3 linked regions of the Homo sapiens genome follow. The protein of the gene in region 2 purifies or fractionates together with the protein of the main gene of each other region. This does not show direct contact. Each region holds a gene or a part of one and is shown on either strand. Other genes may lie near its edges.

Region 1 (7,798 bases), on a different chromosome or scaffold from region 2:
CAGGAATATTTGCTTTTGCAAATGAACTTCTTTAACTTCTATGGTGTCCACTGATTTTCAATTTGGCTAAAGAATGGGGTGTGTGTGTGTGTGTGTGTGTGTGTGTGTGTGTGTGTTTGAGAGAGTCTTGCTTCTGTCACCTGCGCTGAAGTGCAGTGGCACGATCTCGGCTCATTGCAACCTCCACCTCCCGGGTTCAAGCTATTCTCCTGCCTCAGCTTCCCAAGTAGCTGGGACTACAGGCATGCGCCACCAGGCCCAGATAATTTTTGTATTTTTTAGTAGAGACAGGGTTTCATTACATGTTGGCCAGGCTGGTTTCACTATATGGTGATCCGCCTGCCTCAGCCTCCCAAAGTGCTGGGATTACAGGCATGAGCCACTGCACCTGGCCAAGAATGTTTTAGATTAACACGTTTATTCTAAGAATTTACAAGGCTTGTCGTTGCTTTCTATCATGTTGGCTTTCTGAAGCACGGGGAGTTAACAACTATTTGATGTAATCAGGAACCCGGGGAAAATCTTTAGTTGGTTCCCTATGGCAAATGGTCAAAACAATTCCACTTGGTAAAAGCAGCTTTCCGTTTTTGTCTAGGCTTCCAAAGCCTCACATGCAACTGGTTGGCTCCACCTCTTCCTGGATACAGCACCAATTGTGGGTTACTTGGCTAGTTAGTTGTCTCAGATTCACTTTTTTTTCCAGTCATCTTCACCAGAGGTTATCTATTTGGTGTCTTAGGGCCTTCCAAGCCACACGGGGTAACTGACAAGGCTTGTCTTTAGATGCCTACTCTATCCTCCTAGTTGCCAGTTCCTATTTCTTCTAGACTCAGTTTTCATACCTATACTGTTAGGATTGAAATGTCTACTCTCAGGGCTGTTGAGAGGATTAATTGCAATGTGTTTGTAGTGTATATAGTACAGTGGCTGGCACTTAGTAGGTACTAAAAAATTATTACTGCCCCTCCCGTCCCCACCCCACCACTCAGACAAATGTAATAAATACAGATTACGTGGTAATAATTGGTAGGCAAAACTCTCATGGAATATTTTTTTTCTTTTTTTTTTTTTTAGACGGAGTCTCGCTCTTGTCACCCAGGCTGGAGTGCAATGGCTCGATCTCGGCTCACTGCAACCTCCATCTCCTGGGTTCAAGTGATTCTCCTGCCTCAGCCTCTCAAGTAGCTGGGATTACAGGTGCCTGCCACCACGCCCAGCTAATTTTTTGTATTTTTAGTAAAGACAGGATTTCACAATGTTGGCCAGGCTGGTCTCGAACTCCTGACTTCGAGTGATCTTGCCCACCTCGGCCTCCCAAAGTGCTGGGATTACAGGTGTGAGCCACCGCGCCCCGCTGGAATATTTTCGTTTTTAAAAGAGGGCTTCAAAATGATTAGTCTACCCGGGGATTCACCAGTCCGTCCCTCCATCAACCTCCCCGACTGGGGCGGAAAGTGTATGGGGCTTCTGGGCAGCGCTAGACCACAGCGGGTAGGCCACCATCTGGTCCAGAATGCAGCATAAATCTCTCCAAAAATGTGTTTAGGACTTCTGGGTATGTTTTCCAGTGCAAATGTAAAGTGGAAAAGTGTCTCAAGTGCAATAGCGGTCCTTTACCCAGTAAAAAGCATAACAAAAGTTTCAGGGTTTAAGAACCCACGTGGGAGCTGATGGAGTGGGTAGGTGGTTAATCTTCCCAAGTTTTAAAAACCACTGGTCTTAATGACCAGCAGAGAAGATTCACTTCTGGCTAAAATGATAACTGAGCCCCAGATAACTTTTAGCCATGTGAAATTCTTTCCTTTCTAGGGAGTCTCCTCAATCAGAGCCAGCTAAGGAATGTGTGTATTTCCTAGAATGTAAATGAGGGAAGAGAAACTGAGATGGAGACAGAAGGAAAGCAAGCCACTGCATTTTGAAATTCTCTAGGTAGGCAGTTGTATCGTGTCTTTTGTTTCTTTTTCCCTGGGGCAGACCACTTTTCACCTGGCCATCAGTCACCTCCCTTCCCGAGGTCTCCCGACGTGGACACCTAACGCCCTTGGAAAGGGAGTGAATTGGTAGGATATCATCGCTCCGGTTAGTTCCGCGGGAGCTGCCCTTCAGAAAAAAAACTTTCCAGAGCCAAAAGTTACTTTCCAAGCGCCTTGGGGCTTCCCGGGCGCCTCCCTCGGACGGCAACCCTAGAAGTCAAAGCGATTGCATCGCCAGGTCTGTGGCGGCTGGAAGCGGGGTGACCGCGGTCAGATGGCATTTCGCACCCACGCAGGGCTGTGTTATCCTAGCACAGAACCAGCAACTCTCACACGAAGCCTTGTGTAAACACCACGCGGGCCCATTCCTGAACGACTCTTTGATGCCTCCGCTGCGGTTACTTATCTCATACATAAATCAGGATTCCGCTGACAAATCTCCGTGTTTCCACTAAACAGAAGGCTGCCCTGCAGTCCTTCTCGTGCTTCTTTCTAAAGTACGATAACATCTGACACTTCCATAAACCGGCCTGCAGAGGACACCGCGCAGGGGGCGACTAACCAGCTGAGGTGTGTCACCCCAAAACACCAGTGGGCACACCCCAAGGCGGGCACGTGGAAGGGACGCGGAACCGAGGGCAACTATTTTCCAGTCGGTGAATCTGATGGAGAAAGATGCCAAATGCACTTCCCGAGCCAGCTGAACTCCTCGGGCACCTAATCATTGCCAGATGTGGCGAGGGCGCACGGAGAACATCCCCAGTCCCGGAGAAAACACCCGGCCGCCAGCGCGGGGACCGCTCGGGCCGGGAAACGGCTAGAGGCGGGAGGAGAGAGGACTGGGCGAGCGTGGGGAGCGCTGCGGCGTGGAAAAGCGACCGGGAGGGATGGCGATGCCTCCACTCTCCTCGGCAGGTTTTTTCAATTAAAAAGTTGGAAACGGGAATCCGTAAACAACGACTTAGGGCTTCAAACTACTTGCAAAGACGCGATGGGGAGGGGAATACTTGCGCGCTTCAAAACCCCAACCTCGAGGTCTCCAGCCGCGCCTGACCCGGGAGCCGGGTGCGCCCCCAGTGTCCGCGCACGAACCCGGCGCCCTGGCAGCCCCGACTCCCCGGGCCCGCAGCCCAAGGGAAGGTTCGCGCGGGAGGCACCTCCGTGGCCTCCCGCGCGCCCCGAAGCCCGTTCCCCCCGCCCAGAGCCCCGCGGAGCTGCCGCCGCCCTACCTTTCATGGTGACCGTGGGGACGCACCGCCGGCCGGGGAGCTCCGCGCGAGCGCCGCGCAGCCGAGGAAGTCGTCCCGAGCGGCTGCTCACCGCACGCCCATGGTAGCCGCGCCGCGCGCCGGCCGTCTGCGCCCCCGTCCTCCCTCGCCGCCGCCGGCCCGCGCTCCCCGCGCTCCCGGCTCCGCGCTCTGCTGCCTCGGGGCTGCCGCGCGCGCCGCTCTCGCTCTCCCAGCGCCCCTCCCCCTGGCCCGACCCGGCCGAGCGAGCGGCCGCGCCCACGCCCCTCTCGCGCCCTCCCGCGCCCGCCCCGCCCTCGGCCCGCGCCTGCCCTCGCCGGGCACTTTCTCGCCCGCCCTCTCCTGCGCGCCCTGGCCCCACTCGCGCGGGCTCTCTCTTTTTCCCGTTGCACCAGCGTCGGGATGAAGTCGGGAGCAAAGCCCTTCCCGGGGCGGTCCAGCGTTCACCTTCGGCGAGCACCTAAGGTGCCGCTGCTGCTGGGGTCGCTTCTACACCCCAAACTACCTAGCAAGTGTTGGGCGAGAGGATGGGGAGCTGCTGTGCCCCGGGGGTGGCGGGGGGTAAGGTGGGCCCTTCCCCAAACGGCTCTGGGGCATGGAGAGGTACAGAACGTCCTCCGGGTTCAGAGTTTCCAAGTGCGTGCGCTGGTTGACGCCTGAAGGAGACCAAGCAGCAGGGAACACTCTCTCTGTCACCCAGGGAGAGCCCGAGTGGCCAGAATCCGAAGTCACCATTAGACACTCTCTCTGCGCTCTTGGACACCTCCAGAGAAAAAGCCAGCACATCCTGCCTTGGCTGGAAAAGCCAGCCTTCCACCCAGCGCCCCTAAAATGATCGGGTTGACTCCAGTTTTGTTACGAAAGGAGGCCGGGCTGCTGAGAGGCTCCCTGAGTTCCCTTCGTGGTCGCCCGTCACATTGCCCTGCTGTATACTTAATAAAGCCCGTGTTTATCTTTCTCTTTAGAACCCCCTCTAAGCAGACCCATCGCTTTATTGCTTTAAAACATACACTAAGTGGTGAGTGGAGCTGGGGCGAGGGAGGTGCGGAGAAACTTTCTGCCACATGTTGACATTACAGATGGCTACTCAGACGCACTAGTCCACCAAAAGCAATCGAACACTGGCCGGGCAGTGCTTGCAGCTTTTCAGTTTGCCCTCCTGAGGACTTGGTAACACGGTGTAACCAATCCATTGGTTCCCTCTAAGTAGGGGATTCTTTGCTCTAGTAAAAGGTAGTGCCCCAAAATGAATACATATTGAAACATTTCATAGATTCTCCGTTCCAGGAGATTTCTTTTTTCTTTCTTTTTTTTTTTTTTTAATTTTTTAACATAAGGGGGCACCTTGAACATGACGAACAAATGAAAAGACCGAAATGCTTTTTCCCCCGCACTGTCTGCAGTTGATGAAACTACAGGGTCCTGGTCCTGGAGCATGTTTCAGATCTCACTGGGGCACCAGCCTTGTCTTTCAGGGCAAATGGGGATCCCTGAAGGGAGCTTAGGATATGAATTTTCAGCCCGGAGTTTACTAACCAATGGCGTGACCTCGGCTCACTGCAACCTCCACCTCCCGGGTTCAAGCGATTCTCCTGCCTCGGCCTCCCGAGTAGCTGGGATTACATGCGTGTGCCACCAGGCCCAGCTAATTTTTTTGTGTTTTTAGTAGAGACGGGGTTTCACTATGTTGGCCAGGCTGGTCTCGAACTCCTGACCTCGTGATCCGCCCACCTCTGCCTCCCAAAGTGTTGGGGTTACAGGCGTGAGCCACCGCGCCCGGCTTTCTTTTTTTTCTTTCTTTCTTTTTTTTTTTTTTTTTTTTTGAGACGGAATCTCACTCTGTCGCCCAGGCACAATCTTGGCTCACTACAACCTCTGCCTCCTGAATTCAAGCAATTCTCCCACCTCAGCCTCCCAAGTAGCTGGGACTACAGGGGTGGGCCACCAAGCCCAGCTAATTTTTGTATTTTTAGTAGAGACGGGGTTTCACCATGGTGGCCAGGCTGCTCGCAAACCGTACCTCAAGCGATCCGCAGGCATCAGCCTCACAAAGAGCTGGGATTACAGGCGTGAGCCACCACGCCCTGCCGAAAAAAAAAAATCGTTTTTAAAACCCAAATTATGAATATGACACCAAAAGTACAGGCAGCAAAAGAAAAAATATAGATAAATTGTACTTCATCAGACTTTTGTGCCTCAAAGGCCAGTATAAACAGAGTGGAAAGCCAACCCACAGAATAGGAGAAAATATGTGCAAAAGCCCTATATCTGATACAGGATTAATATCCAGGATATATAAAGGATTCCTGCACCTCAGCAACAACAACAAAACAGGCAACCCAATTTGAAAATGAACCAAGGACTGACATGGACATTTCTCCACAGAAGACATATAATGGCCAATAAGTACATGAAGGATATTCAATCACTAATTGTCAGGGAAATTTGAATCAACCGCAATGAGCTACTACTTCATACCCAGTAAGATGGCTATTTAAAAAAAAAAACAAAACAAAATAAGTGTTGGCGAGGATGCGGAGAAATTAGAACTTTTGTGCATTGCTGGTGGGAATGTAAAATGGTACAGCCACTATGGAAAACAGTATGGTGATTTCTCCAAAAATTAAACACACAATTACCATATAGTCCAGGAATTCTATTTCTGGGACCCAAAAGAGGTGAAAGCAGGGTAACAAATAGATGTACATCCAGGCTCATAGCAACATTACTCACAATAGCCAAAAGGTGGAACAACCTAGTGTTCACTGTTGAATGAATGGATAAACAAAATATGGTATAGCCATACAGTGGAATATGATTCAGTCTTTAAAAGGGAGGAAATTCTAACACATGCTACAACACGGATAAAACTTGAGGCATTATGCTTTGTGAAATAAGCCAGTCACAAAAGGACCAATATGATTCTACTTATAAAAGAGAGTAAAATGCCGCCAGACGTGGTGGCTCACGCCTGTAATCCCAGCAGTTTGGGAGGCCAAGGCAGGTCAATCACGAGGTCGGGAGTTTGAGACCAGCCTCGCCAACATACTGAAACCCCTGTCTCTACTAAATATACGAAAATTAGCCAGGCATGGTGGCTGGCACCTGTAGTCCCACCTACTTGGGAGGCTGAGGTGGAAGAATCGCTTGAACCCGGAGGCAGAGGTTGCAGTGAGCCGAGATCGCGCCACTGCACTCCAGCCTGGGCGACAGAGTGAGACTCCATCTCAAAAAAAAAAAAAAAAAAAGAGAGAGAGAGAGAGAGTAAAATGCATAGGGATAGAAAGTAGAATGGTGGTTGCCGGGGGGGGGATGGGGAGTTGTTTCACAGGCACAAAGATTCCATTTGGCAGGATGAAAAGAATTCTGGAGATGGATGGTGGTGATGGTTGCACAACAATGTGAATATACTTAAAGCCACTGAACTATACACTGAAAAATAGCTAAGATGATAAATATATATATTTGACTACAATAAAAAAATTCAAACAGAAGAATGATAAGGTAAAAAACAAACAAGAAACCCCTAAGGCTATGATGTCAGCTGTGATAATGAGCCAGATTCATAGATCTACTGATGAGAAAACAGGCTTAGCAACTTTTCTAAGGATAATTTTAAGGAACAGTCCTGGGACCAGGTGCGGTGGCTCATCCCGGGGCTTTGGGAAGCCAGGGAAGGAAGGTCACTTGAGGCCATGAATTCAAGACCAGCCTGGGCAACATAGTGAGACAAAAAATTTAAAAATCAGCTGGGTGTGGTGGCATGCATCTGTAGTCCCAGCTACTCATCAGGCTGAGGCAGGAGGATTGCTTAGGCCCAAGAGTTTGAGGCTGCAGTGAGCTAGGATCATGCCACTGTACTCCAGCCTGGGCAACAGAGTGAAACCCATCTCTAAAAAAAGAAGGAATCCTGGATGAGTGCCTTCCTCCCCCCACCCTGTCACCTTCAGCACAGAGTGAGTTGGGCCCCACAGGTCCTCAGTGTGGAGCCTCCTCTGAGCCCCACTCTGGAGGATATGAAGACGGAAGGTCATGGTCACATGCAGATCATCAGCTGATCAGGATTTCTCTGGTCAAGAGCTCTGGGAGGAATTGAGAATTGAGCTGGGGATCAGGGAGAAAAGAAGGGAAAAGGAAAGAAGAGAAGAATGTGATTGGAAAGGACTGAGCCATGGAGCTGAAGATGCTTTGAACTCAAAGATGGCCTGCAGGTCCTCCAGGTCACAGGCAAGCTTCCCCACCCCCAGAAGCAGCAGCCAGGCCTTGCATTCAGACTAAAGTTTCAGAATCTGGAGGAAGCATCATCTCATCTTCCCCTCACCCCAGCCCCATGCTAGTATCACCTTTATACTGATGAAAAAGCCCAATCACCCTTGACTCCTCCCTCTCCCTCAACTCTACATCCTCACCAAGCCCTGCTTCTACCTTAGAAATACATCTCAAACTTCTCTGTCTCTCCATCTCCACTGCATCCCCCATGTAGAGGCCATCATAGCCCATCTGAGCTGCTGCACTAACCTTCCAAAGGGCCTCCCCACGCCCACCTTGGCACCTTCTCCACTCCAGGCTCCAACACAC
Region 2 (8,553 bases):
GGTGTTGAGGCACCTTCACTGTTGGAGATTCATAGGTATTAAGCCACAAAGCGGGGAGAAGTGGTGGGTGCCAACACAGGATTGGCTCAAGGAAGTCTCATCATATCTGTCTCTCCTGGGCGATGTGCTCATATGTGTGCATGCACGTGTATGCAAACACACACAAACACATACACATACACACAGTGCTATCTTCACAGCCACACTTTTTTGTTAACACTAAAATGTAACTTTTACTTGCAGGGGAGATGGAAACCATTCTCTCCAGGCAGAGTCCCCACGTCTTTCCCCTTATACTTGTTTATTCAGAGAATGGTGACCCCAGACCAGTCCGGCTTCAGCAAGACAATCTCAGGAGTATGTGAGGCCATATTTCTAATGACCCTAAGTTCCCATTTGTTTCCCATAGTATCAAAGAAAGAACAGAAGCGTTTGTCTCAATTTCAGATTCTCCTATATCATTCTCAAGATAATTGCATTTTCTAGACAGAAATAATCCACCTTTGTAGGTGAAGGTACAAGACTAACTAGCCCACAAGCATCATTACTAGCCTTTTTACCCCTACAAGCCTCCTTGCTTATGGAACAAAAGAACCAAATCAATACAGTCAATATGTCACTTCCAGCAGGGCATGAGTGGCTACCAGCCTTGGGGAGCATGACGTGCTACTAGGCTGAACTAATCACTCCTTGGCATTTCAGGAGCACTTAGGTTAACAGATCACAGCACATGCATAATGAAAGACAATAACTCACCCAGAGGGGAGGGCAGGAGGGAAACACTGAGTTGACCCCCATAGAGGGACAGTTAGTATTTACATAAGTCAACCTGAAGCCATATTGGTGATTCCTTAAAAGGGCCAAAAATTTTAGAAAGAAGAAAAGCCCAGGAAGATCCTGGGGGAGAGGAGATTGGATTGCATCCTTAATTTCAGCAAAGATTTAATCAGGGGGATGGTCTTTCTACCAAGAGTCTCACACTTGAAGAATTTAACAGGTATAACAGCAGGAGACAAAGGGTGAGATTAAATACCTTAATTTTATAAATTTCAAATGTATGAAATTTAGGAATATTTAAGATATCAGCAAATGGTTGCCAAGGTACATGATTCTTTTAACTCTTAGAAATGCATTTTTATATCTTCAAGGGATTTTCTCAGATAGAATACCTGCTACCAATTTTATGTAAAATAAACTTGATTTCCATTTTCAAAATAAAATAAATGTATACAGACTCTCTAAGGAGTCTCAACTTTTTGGGAGGTAATTTGCTAATTCAGTGTACACATGAATCACTCAGAAACATTGTTAAAATATAAATTTCCTGGGCCTCCGCTTGAGATTCTCATTCAGCAGTTTTTCAAGGAAGAAGCAAAAATACGCATTTTTAACCAGCTTCTCAGGGAATTCATTAAAAAGAAAAAAACCCTTAGAGAAATGCTGCCCGGACTTCTACAACAAATCAGAACCTCTCCACTTTCTGGGCACCTCAGGCTGTGCAGGGAAGGTAGAAGGAACTCAATGATCTTTAAGAGCTGGGACTACCCTGGCCCTCATTTGGTTCTAGGTCTAACCCTCCCAAACCACTTCCTTGTCAGATGTCTGCATTCAGAGATGGCATCAAAACCCCCTGCAACAAATAATCCAGGAATTTTGAACACTAAGGAGGGAAGTCCAAGGCAGGGACTGAAACCCAGGAAAGCAGCTTGCTGATTTTCTTGAAACTGGTCATGCTGACCACAGTCTCTCTATCTGGCCACCCTCATCAAACAGCTGCATGAGGGAAAGACGATAAGCATGATTTCTTTTTCAAGTGGTCCTAATGCTGCAGGATGAATCAGAGATAAGCATGCATATTTGCATTTGAAGCAGGGTGGGAGTGGGGAGAATCGTTGAACATCTAGCTCCCTAAGGAGGAGCAAGGATTGGCCTAAAAGGTTTGTAGCCTGGTCAAAATACAGAAAGGCTTGGATCTGCAGAAGGATCTGGAGTGGGATCCACAAAGTGCCTTGCACCTCACTCCCTCACCCCCTCACCCAACCTCAAGAGCCACCGAAAAAAAAGTAGTGGGGTGTCAGGTGGGGCAACAGTGACTTGCTCAGACAGCTTCCTTGTGGCTGAGAGCAAGCGCCTGTCCCCACGGAGCTGCACTGCTGTGACTTGTGTCCATGGTGAAGCCTGTTATGTAGACGCACACGCACCCTCTTACCTCTGCTCTTCAAGAGGAAGCACTCAAGGGCTGCCCGCCTCAGACAGGGATAGGGAAGCGCTCTGTCTGGTGCTTAGAGGTGTCTCTTGTCTCCGCATACCACCCTAGAGGGGCTCTCGGTCCATCATAGAGCCGGGCCGAGAGCCGGGCGGTCACCCTCCGCTACTGCCGCCACCGTCGCCTGCACTGCCGGGTAGAAACGGGTCTGGCACCCAAGCCTCCCTCCCCGACTAGGTGTCAACCCAAGAGAAGGCGAAGGAGAACGAAAGTTCAGGACCAAGGACAGCGGCAACCGTGGGAGCGGGAGAATCCAGCCAGAATCTGCCTCTCCCCCATCCTTAGCTTCTGCCTTAGAAACTGAAAAGGGTCAGGTCGCACCAACACAGAGTTGCCAAAAACAGCCCTTCTTCCTCCGGAAGAAGTCGGAAACTCTGGCCGCGAGCCCCGGGTCTCGCGCTTGGGTGCTGGGGGAAGTGCCCTCCCGAGATTGTGGGGAGCGGCCTCCCTCCCGCCCTCCGATGCCGCGGCTCCGCCGTGCTGCCCTGGGCGCCCCGCGGGGAGGCTGCCCCAGCTGCGCCCGCTCGTGCTCGGGGAGAGGATTCCCTTCTAAGTGGCGAGGAGGCTACTGAGAAGGAGGGAGAGGGGATAGCAGCCGCGGGCTCCAGACGCCCTCTGCCCCCGCCCGACGGGGAGCCCATGCAGAGCCGGATCCCAGGCGGGCGCTCCCGAGCAGGCGGCCAGGAGTGGCCGCACAAACTTCTGGTCCTGGCCTCGCTCCCCTTGGAGGTCCCTCCTCCTCTCCCCGTGACACTGAGTCGCCCGCCGCTCCATCCGGCCGGTGCTTACCTTCAAGCCATAGGGCGCCCGGGGGCAGAGACGGCGCCGGCTGCTTGAGGCTTCCAGCTCCCGCCGCATCCACGCGCGGCCGCCCCTCCGGCAGCCGTCCGGGGCCGCCACTCTCCTCGGCCGGTCCCTGGCTCCCGGCCCCGCCGCGCCGTTCAGAGCCCCGGCGGGCAGCAGCTCGGCCGGCTCTGGCCCGCGGGGAGCAGTGGACGGGCCGCGGCGGGGCGGGGCGGGGCGGGGCCGGGCGCGGGGCGGGCGGGCAGGAGGGAGCGCGGGGACGGGGCGGAGGCGGCGCGGTGCGCGCGTGAGGCTGCCGGTTCGGCACTGAAGCTGGACAGCTCTGCGGCGCCCGAGCGCGGGGAGCGCGGGAGGGAGGTGCCCCGGTCCCCGCCCCTGAGACAGGCCCCGCCCCCGCCCCCCACCAAAGGAGCTGTACCTCCTCGGCGATCCCCGGCCTGAACGGGTAGGAGGGGTTGGGGGATTCCGCCATCCCTTGTTTTGAGGCGGGAACGCAACCCTCGACCGCCCACTGCGCTCCCACCCACACCCAGAGTAATAAGCTGTGATTGCAGGCTGGGTCCTCACCGTCTGCTCGCCAGTCTTCTCCTTTGAGGACTCAGAAGCCAAGGGTTGCGGGAGGCACCACCCATCCAGCAAGTCAGGCAAGGAGAGGAGGTGTTGGAAGAGGTCCGCATCCGTTTTCTGACTTCAGGTCTTGGAATCTATGTAGTCAGTTCTATTGCTGGACTCATCCAAAGGAAAAAGCCTGTTTGGAGTTGACCTGACATGGAAATGCAAAAGGAGGCCTCAGGGGTTCCAGCTCACCCTTGACTCCAAACTGAGGTGTGTGAGGCAGGGAGTGGGGAGAGGGAGAAAGAGATAGAGTGGTGAAGGGTGTTCCGCTGCTACCCTGCCCACTGTCATTTGGGCTGCAGAGGAACCTCGTTCTTCTCCCCTTTTCTTCCTCTCTCCTTTTCTTTCTTTTCTTTTCTTTTCTTTCTTTCTTTCTTTCTTTCTTTCTTTCTTTCTTTCTTTCTTTCTTTCTTTCTCTTTCTTTCTTTCCTTTCTTTCTTTCTTTCTTCCTTCCTTTCTTTTTCTTTCTTTCTCTTTCTTTTCTTTCTTCTGCAGCAATTAGTTACCAACTGTCCTCAGTTTGCCAGATTCTGTGTCAGATTCAGAAGTCACACACAGAAAGAAAACCAGGCCCCTGATCCCGCACCCTGGCAATCCAGAGAGGGGACCCCCAGGGAAATAACTGAGGCTTAAACAGGTGCTGTGAAGCACAAAAAAGCGAGACTTTACAGGAACCGGGCATTGAAGGAGCAACACCAGTTCCCAAGGGGAGAAGGTGGCACAACACTCCAGGGAGAGGGAAGAGCAGGGGCAGAGGACTGACTCTGCAGAGCAGGGAGTCGGCCCTGCATGGCTGGAATCCAGCCTCTCTGGGCCACAAGGATTAACTTCATCTCAGCATTTCCTCCAATGACACACACAATTATAGAAAGTGAGGGCTGGAAAGGACCTTAACATTCATCCAATTCCGCCTCACCTCAGAAGGGAGAACTGAGTCCCAGAGAGATGGAGTGTCCTTGCAAATCCCACAGAGTCCAGCACTGAACCGTCCCCCTCTCCAGAGGCACAAAACAGCACCTCTCTCAAATGCAGCCATCTCTGGAGGCACGGGAGCAGAGGAAGCTGTGGGCTCCCCACCTCACCCCACCATGACTCTTCCCAGCTCCTGCCCCTGGATCTTGCTGATCTGGACTGGCCTCCATTTGCCTGCAGGCTCTATAGGGAGATATTACACCAATAGGAGTCCTAGAATGTTGCCATAATTGCCTTTAAGGGATCAGCCATTACAGATATGGTTGACATCCCAGTGTTTCCCTTGTATACCCTTGGACCATTCTTTCCTAGGTTTAATCCACATAAGGAGATATTTGGTACCTCCCAACTCAGCACCTCTACATAGGTTCAGGGATGGGTCAGACTAGCCAGAGCACCTGGATTGGTGTCCCGCCTTGGTCACCTACCTGTTGTGTGGGCTTGCCTAAATTGCTTGATCTCGCGAAGTCTCAGTTTCTCCATTTTTAAGTGGGGACTAAAAATAACGATCTCTGAGCTTTACTGAGAAAAATAGATGAGGACATGTTAGACAATGGTAATATGGGCCATCTCTGGCTGCTCTGGGGTGGGGAGGGGAGCCCTGTTCATCAGGAGGCAGAAGCAGGAAGAAGATGAGCTCCATAAGGTGCACCCACCCAAGGACACTGTAGCTCTGCGCTGCCTTTTTTACCCCAATCTTACATGGCTGAGTGGATTTCATGCTGGCTGTGAGTGAGACGGATGGATCTTTTAGTTTTCAATTAGCAAACGCCTCACTCTTTAAACAAGCGGCACAGCAAACAGATGCACTGTGTGATTGATGACAGGGAACATCTGCGGCCAAGCAGCGGCTGCACCAGAGGCTCCCAGCTTCCTGGGCTAGCAGGGCCCTCTGGAGGTCGTTTGGTGCCTCCCCCTGCCTCTAGGCAGGAGTGTGCCCAGTCCAAGTGGGCGGGGTGGGGGCAGGGTGTCCCTTTGCCTTATAGCTTTCCTGAAAAAGGATCTACAACAGCCTCTTTGAATTCTTTACCTCCTTGGAGTCAGGAAGTTCCACCTGATGTACCTCCTAAATCTTTCATTTATTTCTACCCTTTTCATTGTTGAAAGTTGTAAGGAAATAAGTAGTAGTGGGTATTAGGGGTTGTCTTAGTCCATCTGGGATGCTATTAATATAACAAAATACTGTAAACTGTGTGGTTTACAAACAGAATTTATTTCTCACAGTTCTGGAGGCTGGGAAGTCCAATATTAAGGTGCTGGCAGAGTTGGCGTCTGGTGAGAGCCAGCTTTCTGTTTCATAGATGGTACTTTCTCACTGTGTTCACACATGGTGGAAGGGGTGGATGAGTGCTCTTGGGCCTCTTTTACAAGGGGACTCATCCATCCTATTTATGAGGGCTGTGTCTTCTTCTGTCCTCATGACCTCCTCACTGCCCAAAGGCCTCACTTTCCCTTTGTTTTGTTTTGTGTTTTGTTTTGTTTTGTTTTGTTTTTACAGAGTTTTGCTCTTGTTGCCTAGGCTAGAGTGCAGTGGTGCTATCTTGGCTCACCGCAACCTCCGCCTCCCGGGTTCAAGTGATTCTTCTGCCTCAGCCTCCCGAGTAGCTGGGATTACAAGTATGCGCCACCATACCCAGCTAATTTTGTATTTTCAGTAGAGATGGGGTTTCTCCATTTTGCTCAGGCTGGTCTCGAACTCCTGACCTCAGGTGATCCGCCTGCCTTGGCCTCTCAAAGTGCTGGGATTACAGGCTCACTTTCTAATTTTATAATCCTGGGGCTTAGGATTTCAACATATGAATTGGGGGGAGCAAAGACATTCAGGCAGGGCTAGGAAATGAGTTAGGGACAGATGGGGGTTTTGTTGGCCCATTGTAAGAGAAACAAAGGAGAAAGCCAACAGAGAATAAGGGAGAGCTAGAACTTCCTCCCGAGCTCCAAGAACTGCTCGCTGCAGCTTAGAAAGAGGGGGGACCCTTGCTGATCTCCTTCAAACTCTGATGTACCCCCAGAGAGAACAGACTGTCACAGTCCCCTTCTAAAAATCATCTCACAGAAAACAAGGGAAATGCTCTCATCTGAAAGGTGGGGAAGGCAGAGCGGGGTCATGTCAGTAGCAACACTGGAGTCACACAGAAGTTTGTTCCCATCTAAACTCCACAACCTTGGGAAATTCTGAATGGCTCCGGGGCTCAGTTTTCTGGATTGTGAAATGGGGATGGAGAGCCACATTGCAGTGCTATCATGAAGAATAAGTGGGAACGACAGCCCACACATATTGATATTCCATGGGTCTTCCCCCCTTACAGAAAACTTCAACTGGAGAAGTGACGCAGGAAATATAGACATCTTCTATATGGTGTTACAGTTCTCCATTTCTTAACCCACTTTGTAGATAAAAACTGAGCCCCCATTTCCAAGCTCTTGGAATTTCTCTTTTCTCATCCTCTTCTTTTGTCTTAGTTCTTGTGCCATTTGCAAATGACTTGGGGAGCAGTAGAACATCAATCTATCTGGGTCAAAGGAAGTATGGGGCAAAAAAAAATCATCTCTTTTGTACTTTATTACATCCCTCAAATGCAGAAAACCTTAGAGAGGTGTGGAATTCTTGGATATTGTTGTTATTGAGGGATCTACAGCCCCATGTAGGATAATCTAGGGAAGGGACTGAAGGTAGTCGAGATGGTAGACCCCAGAGAAGGGTGGGCAAGGGGAGAATCTTCTGAGAAGGACAGAAGTTCAGGGCACTGTCCAACCAAGGCAGGAGAGCAGAGAGTTACCTGAGGGTTTTGACATCTGCGTGTGTAATCACCCTTAGAAAATGATTTCCTCACTGGTAGACTCTAATGGGCCTTTCCACCTGGGTGTGAAATGGACATTTGTTCTTTGCTGCCTCCTATTTTGAAAGAGTAAAGAGAATACAGGGATGACTCACTTTAAGAAATTCTGTTACACAGTTCTTCAGAGTTACAGAACAGATAACTCAGAGTGCAATTATTCATATTAGAAATTTAATTGCTTGATGGGAAGAGGTCATAAAAATATACACCTCATTTCCACACCTATGTTCATAGCAGCACTATGCACAATAGCCAAAAGGTGGAAACAAGCCATGTGTCCATCAACATGGATAAACAAGATGTGGTATTTACATGCAAAGGAATATTATTAGGTCTTAACAAAGGAGAGAAATTCTCACACCTGCTACCTCATGGAATCTCGAAGACATTGTGCCAAGTGAAATAAGCCAGTTACAAAAGGACATATACTGTACAATGCCACTTATATGAGGTATCTAGAGTCAATCTACAGAGACAGAGAGTGAATTGGTGGTGGCCAGAGGCTGGAGGCAGGGACAAATGGGGACATATTTGATGGGTATGGGGTTTCGGTATGAGAACATGAAGAATGTTCTAAAGTGGAGTGGTGGTGATGCTTACACAACAATATGAATGTACTTAATGCTACTGAACTATGCACTTAAAATGCGTGGTGGTTCACGCCTGTAATCCCGGTACTTTGGAAGATCGAGGCTGGCTCTAAAGTGGAGCGGTAGTGATGCTTACACAACATGAATGTACTTAATCCTACTGAACTATGCACTTAAAATGCGCAGTGGCTCATACTTGTAATCCCAGCACTTTGGAAGGCCGAGGTGGGTGGATCACCTGAGGTCAGGAGTTCGAGACCAGCCTGGCCAACATGGTGAAACCCCATCTCCACTAAAAATAAATTAGCCGGGCATGGTGGTGGGCTCCTGTAATCCCAGCTAGTTGGGAGGCTGAGGCAGGAGGATCACTTGAACCGGGAAGTGGAGGTTGCAGTGAGCCGAGACTGTGCCATTGCACTTCAGCCTGGGCAACAAGAGTGAAATTCTGTCACAAAAAAAAAAAAAA
Region 3 (7,855 bases), on a different chromosome or scaffold from region 2:
TCTAGAGGCATGTTTATTGAGGGCCAGGATATTGGGTGTGGGTTCCACCAGAACAATAAATCTCAAAGTTTGCTGCCTGGACCAGCAGCGTCAGCATCACCTAGGAATTTGTCAGAAATGCAAAGTTTCAGGGCTAACTCAAACTACTTGATCAGAAACTCTAGGATGGGACCAGGCAATCTGTTTTAATAAACCCTCCATGTGATTCTGGTGTATGCCGATGTCTAAGAACCATTGAGCCACTCAAAACCCTAGTGGCTTACACACAATAAAAGCTCCATTTCTCACTGTCTCAGTCTATCAGGCTGCTATAAAAGAGTCCCACAGACTGGGCAGTTTAGAAACAACAGAAGAGTTTTGAAGTTTAGAAGCCACTGAACTGCCTTTGCACCTTGGTTGAAAATAAACTGACCATGTGTGTGCAAGGTTTTTTTTTTTTTTTTTTTTAACTGTTTTGTTCCATTAACCTATGTCTCTTGTGGTCAACACCACACTTTCCTGGATATCATAGCTTTATAGCAAATCTTGAACTCAGGTAGCCTCCTGCTGTCCTATGGAGGTGGAGGGAGGGAGGATGGGAAGACCTATGAGTACTGACTCAAAGTGGAGAAATGTCTTAACAACTCTCCTGCACCCTGTCCCCCAATACAGAGGCCTCCAAATGAAGGTTTCTGGGCTCAAAATGCAGATATAATGATAAGCATGGCTGGCCTGGGGTAAGGCCTGAGTCCTTGACTGCAACTTCCTTCAGAGACTGCAGTTCACTGCCTGTGCTCTACATCTGGTGTGAGTAGGGCAGCTTTCCCCTCTAAGGTCTGCTAGGCAAAGCCTTTACAATTGCCATGGTCAGCCGTGATTTTGGACTGGAACTGGACTTCTCAGTTTTTGGCTGTAGTAGGTCCTCTGCATTTGCATCTGAGTTTTAGAATAAGCTTGCCAATTTCTACTAAAAAACCTGCTGGAATTTTCATTGAGACAGTGTTGAATCTATAGGTCATTTTGGAGAGCACTGGCATTTAACAATACTGAGGCTTCGGATCCACCTACATGGTATAGCTCCACATTTATTTAGGTCTTTTACATTTCTCTTAGCAATGTTTTGCGGTTTTGATGTGCAGGTCTAACATATCTTCAGTCAGATACAAATTTTAAATATTTTTGATGTTAATAAATAAGTAGTATTTTTAAAATTTTGATTTCCATTATTTTGTCTTATAGAAATACGATTTTTGCATATAGATTTTGTAGCTGCAATGTTGCTAAACCAGTATTAGCTCCAGATTTTCTGTAGAGACCATGACATTAACCTAAATTATGTGGTATTAATTAACTGACAGGCAGCACAGGTATTACAGGTGAAAAGCTGGTGACCAAGCCCCTCCTTTTTTTTTTCCCCCGCCACAAGACATTTGATAAAATTGTCAACTCAGTACCTTAGCAGGCAGACTACCTGCTCTTTGAATCTGTAGTAGCAGGGAAAATGGTTGGGAGTGAATCTCTGGGTCAGTGAGACAGTACTGCCTTCTTCCTGTCTCTTTAGCAAAGTACTTTGAGAAAGATGAACTCAGGTAAAAACTAGTCATTTTGTTAACAGAGCTGGAAGGAAATAAAGTCATACTAAGATGGAGTTCTCTGCCTGTAGTCTGCAATACAAATTGACTGAGTGGTGATTTCAAGCCTTCTAGTTCTGATAAAGCCAAAAGCTATTACACTTCTGACAGTGTAAGATAAAACTGTGACCCAAGGCACTTCTCAAAGGCCATCAGCAAAGTGTTCTCTGCTGGACAGTGGAACCCAGACAAGCAATAGAGGTCATATTAAGGGCACTGCCTTCCTAACCATGACTGCTGTTTTTGCTGGGTGCAAGCATATAGCCACTAAGTTAGTAGGTACAGGAGATATGAGAGAGTCTCGTAAATAAAAATGAAGAGTAGTTAGGCATAAGAAATATGACTAATTGAGATCTCTATCTGTGGTTATTTGTAAAAGGAACTATACAAGGAACAAACAGATAAGAAATCCATTCGGTATCTTTTAAAAATTGAATTGACAAAGAAGCTATTAAGCCTAGCTTGCCAATGCCTGTGTCTATCTGACCCTACTAAAGTAACCCACAGTCCCTCAAAAGCGCACCAGTAAGAAACTGGATATAAAAAGATGTGTAGCCTCTCATGGAGCACACTCTTTAGCATGCCCTTCAGATGGAATCATAGATCATGGGTAAGAACCTCCCAATGGGTAAAGACAGTACCTTTGGATGCAACAAACCAGAGTTCCTCCTGGAAAACAGAACTGGGGTCTAACCAAGAATTTACTTCATTACCTTTGTAGTCTAATCTGCTCTTCACATTCGCTTAGACAAAGAACTACTATTTTGTCCTCACTCTTCTTCCAAATTAGTTTTCGTGCCCTACTTCACCACTGCATACTGGCTGTGTGGGGAAGAGAAAGGGGAATAAATAACATAATTTACTCTGTAGGTCATTGGACCATGAGGAGTTATATCAGACTTGTAAGGGACTGTTACATCTTTAGATCATGGACGCTGAGCTGGATGCAGTAACTGCTTAGAATGCTGGGTTTTCTCTCTTCAAACAGGGTGTGTTCTATGTGTCACAAGGGTATCCATGGATATTTGAGGGGCCAGAGGAGTAGATTGTGTCACAGTTGTCCAAAGAACATTCCTGTTTTATTATTAGAACTGCCAAATATCCAAGTATTAGTTGTATCTATAGTCACTCCGCAAGAGAACCTCATCTCCCACCTTCCCAAGTTAGATGTGGCTGTCAGATCAACAGCGACATTAGATTCTCATCAGAGGACAAACCCTATCGTGAACTGTGCATGTGAGGGATCTAGGCTGCACACACCTCATGAGAAGCTAACTAATGCCTGATGATCTGAGGTGGAACAGTTTCACCCCGAAACCATCCCCCATCTCCCCTTCCCCATCTGTGGAAAAAAACTGTCTTCCACGAAACTCGTCCACGGTGCCAAAAAGGTGGGGGACCGCTGGATTAGGGGGAATGTCTGAAGAAAAGGAAGTCCTAGTGGTGAAAAAGGCACCACTGAAGGCAAAAATGTTCAATTCTTTCCTCAAAACACCAAAGAAACTAATATAACTTTTCTTGCAGCTATTCTGGTAAACGAAAAACCCTTGTTTTTGAAATAAGATATATCTGTTCTTTAAAAATGCTTATTCTTTTATAATTATAAAAGTAACAGCCATTGGAATACTCGAGAACGTTGTAACAATACAGAACACTTAAAACAGTTTAAAGACAATGAAAAGCAGTAGAATCCCACTATTCTGAACAAAAAAAATTGCATTTTTTTCGAATTGTTCAGTGGCTGTGCAACTGGGAGTACATGCATTTTCATATATACTACATGTATACACGCACACTGCATTTGTTTTACTTTTTCATTTAACATCAAAATTAATTTTTTTTTTTTGAGACAAGGTCTTGCTCTGTTGCCCGGGCTGGAGCACAGCAGTGTGATCATAGCTCACTGCAGCCTCTACCTCTCTGGCTCCAGCGTTCCTCCTGGTGCAGCCTCCCAAGTAGTTGGGACCACAGGTGTGCGCTACCACACCACCATGCCCAACTACTTAAATACCTTTTTTTTTTTTTTTTTTGGTAAAGATGGCGTCTCAAACTCCTGGCCTCCAGCAATCCTCCTGCCTCAGCCTCTCAAAGTGTTGGGATTACAGGAGTGAGCCATCATGCCAAGTAAGTTATTTCTTCACACTAAACATTCTTCAGCTCTTAGTTGCAGAGTATTTCTAGCATGTGAAACTTCATACAATCAACCACAAAACACAGACAAATCAGTATGTATCAAAAAGAAGTAACTGAAAAACACAAAATATTGTCTTTGACAGAATGACTATTTTTTCAGACCCTTAATAGTGACCAGGCCTTCGCAAGCCTAGAAGGGACTCCTGGGGGTGTTTTCATGAAAGGCCTGTGGAACCGACTTGGTATAGCCTCATAGCAATAACAAACAGTTTAGGTATCATTTTGTCCAGGGGAAATACAAATTACAAAATCAAAGCTAGAGCCTTTTTAGTGTTGTATGCCTGGCAACACACCTCATTCTACACTATAGCACTGCTAAGCCTCCTGCCCTCCTTACAGTCCAGACCACATGAAAACAAAGTGGTAACTAAATCCATGCAAGAAGCTGGGTGAAAGCCTCCTTTCTGTGGGTGCTAATCTGAAGTTCCCTCCCTCATCTGAGACGACCTGCCCATTTTGGCAGAACATGTGTTAAGCCAAAATCTCACACAGATGAACTCCCAAGTCACTCACCTCGCTCCAACCACTTTACATTTAGTTTGAGAATGTCACAGGAACAAATGTCATCTCCTATGATTTGAGAAACAAGAATAATACAACACCACCATTAAGTCCACCTACACTGCCTTAATGGTGCTGTTGGTGCCTTGCTCCCGTATTTTGGCCGCTGCAAAATGGGCTTAAATATGTTTGTAAATACATAACTTAATATTGAATTCATCTTCCCTATTCCGCGCATTTTGAGAACTGTGCTTAGTTTTCACTTTGGACGAATAGCAACCCTTCTGATGGCCGTCATGACAATGTCTCCAATAAAAACTGACAGTCTAGCTGGCTGCAAGGCAGGTCCTCTTCTATCTTACTGGGCACTGCTAAACTGCGAAGTCGGGGCGACACGGCAGCAACTTTAAAATCAAACCGCATCCCCAAGGGCTCGGCGTGTTTTTTGGCCTCTGCAGCTTCACGTACTTCGTACGACAGGAGCGCACTTGTTCTCTGTCCGAGAACTTCGTCCCGAGAGAACCTCAGGAACTCGCCGGGCCACACCCCCTGTCCAGGGAAGGAACACGCCCCCGGTGACAGCCGGTACGGCCCCGGGTTTGGGCAACCTCGATTACGGGCGGCCTCCAGCCCCGCCAGCAGCGCCCCGCGCCCGCCCGCCCGCGCCCCTGCCGCCCCCCGGTTCCGGCCGCGGACCCCACTCTCTGCCGTTCCGGCTGCGGCTCCGCTGCCGGTAGCGCCGTCCCCCGGGACCACCCTTCGGCTGGCGCCCTCCCATGCTCTCGGCCACCCGGAGGGCTTGCCAGCTCCTCCTCCTCCACAGCCTCTTTCCCGTCCCGAGGATGGGCAACTCGGCCTCGAACATCGTCAGCCCCCAGGAGGCCTTGCCGGGCCGGAAGGAACAGACCCCTGTAGCGGGTAAGCACTGGCCACACGGAAGGCGCGGGCGGCGACGCTGCGCATGCGCGCCTTTGCCCGGCGGCAGCGCGCCCGCTGCCCGGAAGGAAGCCGTGGGCTGGCCTCGGGCGGGTCGCGGGGTGGGGGTCTGCGCAGGCGCGAAGGGGCGCCGGCAGTGGCCGGGGAGACGCTGGGGTCCACTGACGTCCCTTTGTCTTTGTTTGGCTCGTCATCTTCTGGAGCCAAACTGGGCATTCTGAAGGAATCTAGTGCATCGGTCTCACTTACCCGGAGTGCATACCGTCGCGGCCCCAAGTTTTGGGCAGGAAATGTGCCGCTGGGGTCTGGCCTTGCTCGCGGGCGCCCGCGGCGCTGTGCCTGCGCCCTCCTTTCTTGTCTCCTCTGCGCCGGCCGCCGGGACCCAGGGCACCTGCAGCGGGGCTGGTGCGAGTGTTGTCCCGGGAAATGCCGGAATGAGACGAGACGATGAAAACCTTAAGTGTGGAACTGCGTCTCAGGCCAGTGTTCTGGCTGAGTCACCCCTAGTCACCCCTCGTGCCCTAGGTCGGCCCCGCTGTCCCCAGGGGCAGGGGCTGCCGTATGCTGGGTCAGCTTAAAGCGATGCTCCACAAACTTGGACAACTTTCTAGTCGTTCTCACATCAGTACTTTGGGAAAATACAATAAGGGTGAAATACTAGAAAAATGTTCACGTGCTTCGATGCCATGTAATGGTAAACTGCTATAAAAGTTTTCAAAATCTTGGCAATTTCTGCTGCAGACAGCACGCGTTTCCCAGAACGAGGGCCACACGTTAATATTACCTTAGTGCAGCGCTTCTCAGAGTGCCCCCACCTGCCGCAGCAGCAGCAGCATCACCACCTGGGTGGGCGTTCCCCCATTACTGAATCGGAGACTCTGGGGGTGGAGCCCAACAATCTCTAAAACAAGTCCTCCAGGTGATTGTAATGTACGCTGTAGCTTGTAAACCACTGCCTTAGAGCTGTTGGAGGATTAAGTGATGTTTAATCTACACATGGCTCAATGCCAGAGAAATTCAGCATTTAAAAAATTTCCTTAGAAGTTTCTTTTTCTTTTCCTTCAAGAATTGTTGAGGATAGGAGGAGGTCATATTGAGAGTTTGTCATCTCGTAGAATAATCAGTATGAGATTAGAAAAGGTAGAGGTTTTTTGGATTAGAGGCAGTTTAGAAATCGTGTGACTGGCTTATTATTAATCGAATTAGCAGTTTCTGTTTCCTGGTTTCCCCATCATTTCACCTGCTACTCAGCCGTAAAAGTTTATTTTTGATTCAAATGCAGAGATTGAGTTTTGAAACAAATCTAGATTAGTAAACATCTATACTTATATATAGATTTATAAAATATAACCAGATTATCTAAAACTTATAAATGCATCTTAAAATTTTTTCTTTCTTTTACAGGCAGGAATTTATACGTGCATGTTTAAAGGCGATACTTTTCAAATGCCAGACTTCCTCAGCTTGTGCTATACTTCCCGTTCACACACTGCCGTGTCTTTGCTATGCCCTCCCATACACCAAAAAAAAAAAAAAAAAAAAAAACCCCAAATAATCCAAAAACTCTTGTTCAGATTTCCAAACTGGTTCAAGGTCAAGATGGACCAAAATTTACTTTGGCTTTATCTTAACCAAAGTCTTCCCAATCAGTTTCCTAATATGTAAATGACATTTTTGGTAAAAGATGAGCAAACATTTCAGAAATGAGCCAACAATTTTTTTCTTATCCCCATCATAACTTTTAACTGCAAAACCTCAGGACCTGGTTCTTTTCCAGGCTCTGCTGTCTCCATATAGCTGTGAGTGTTTTTGGTACACCAACACATCTCTGTATCTGGGCCAGTAAACTTTTTTTTTTTTTTTTTGGTGTAGGGCCAAGCCTACAATGCATATGTCCTTATTGTTCATCTATTGTAACTTTTTCCACAAAAAGTGTGTGAAATTTAGATTGTGGACGTTCCAGTCTCCACTTCTGAGCCTTGAGAGGTTGCTGAAAGCCCTGACTGGCTCCAGAAATGGGCAGTGTTACCTCTTCAGTGGGTTTCAGTAGCTGTAAACTTGAAACTTAAGGATTTAGTATTGTTCTGAATGTGGAATTCACCTCCACTGCAACTTGGATCCTGTTTAACAACTCCTCCCTTCTCTATATTACCTCCATCCATGTCTGTTCTTATTTGTACCCTGACCCTCAAAAGTTGCGTGACAAAAGCATCACCTTTTGACTGCAGAAGGCCTGTTTCTTTAGTGCGTTTAGATAAGCCTAGTATCAGGTGTGTACCATTACCAAATACTTGAGGTGTTAAGGATTACCATCTTAGCGTTCATCCTACCATTTTTATATTCTTAAGGACAATTCCACCCTTTTACACACTGTGACCAAGATTTCCACCTTGCAAGAAGGAAAGAGTCAAACCTTCAAAGTTTTTCAGTGTTTAATTTATCCCAGGCTACCTAAAATGGATGAAAACATGAACAGGCCTACTTGGGTGAGTGGTGAAAACTGAACCTGCCCTGGACTGCCTCATTTGCAGCCTGCTGTGTTCAGGTTAGGGGGCATCTGGGCAGTGCTGGCTGGCTGGTAGGGCACACGGCAATGTGTCTTGCCCTGTATGTGG

What was found.
Region 1: the proteins of DRD2 (region 2) and COLEC12 purify together in Homo sapiens (affinity purification with mass spectrometry; 2 studies listed by BioGRID and IntAct, with this or other methods). This does not show direct contact.
Region 3: the proteins of DRD2 (region 2) and MSRA purify together in Homo sapiens (affinity purification with mass spectrometry; 2 studies listed by BioGRID and IntAct, with this or other methods). This does not show direct contact.

The regions. Positions count from the first base shown.
Region 1 is NC_000018.10:497,306-505,103, forward strand, and holds the start of COLEC12 (collectin-12), read right to left. Parts: upstream 3,397-7,798; 5' UTR 3,210-3,396; coding exon 3,203-3,209; intron 1-3,202. UniProt on the Homo sapiens protein: Scavenger receptor that displays several functions associated with host defense. Promotes binding and phagocytosis of Gram-positive, Gram-negative bacteria and yeast.
Region 2 is NC_000011.10:113,472,021-113,480,573, forward strand, and holds the start of DRD2 (D(2) dopamine receptor), read right to left. Parts: upstream 3,379-8,553; 5' UTR 3,056-3,378; intron 2,717-3,055; exon of another isoform or gene 2,210-2,716; intron 1-2,209. UniProt on the Homo sapiens protein: Dopamine receptor whose activity is mediated by G proteins which inhibit adenylyl cyclase. Positively regulates postnatal regression of retinal hyaloid vessels via suppression of VEGFR2/KDR activity, downstream of OPN5.
Region 3 is NC_000008.11:10,049,437-10,057,291, forward strand, and holds the start of MSRA (mitochondrial peptide methionine sulfoxide reductase isoform a precursor), read left to right. Parts: upstream 1-4,855; 5' UTR 4,856-5,080; coding exon 5,081-5,222; intron 5,223-7,855. UniProt on the Homo sapiens protein: Has an important function as a repair enzyme for proteins that have been inactivated by oxidation. Catalyzes the reversible oxidation-reduction of methionine sulfoxide in proteins to methionine.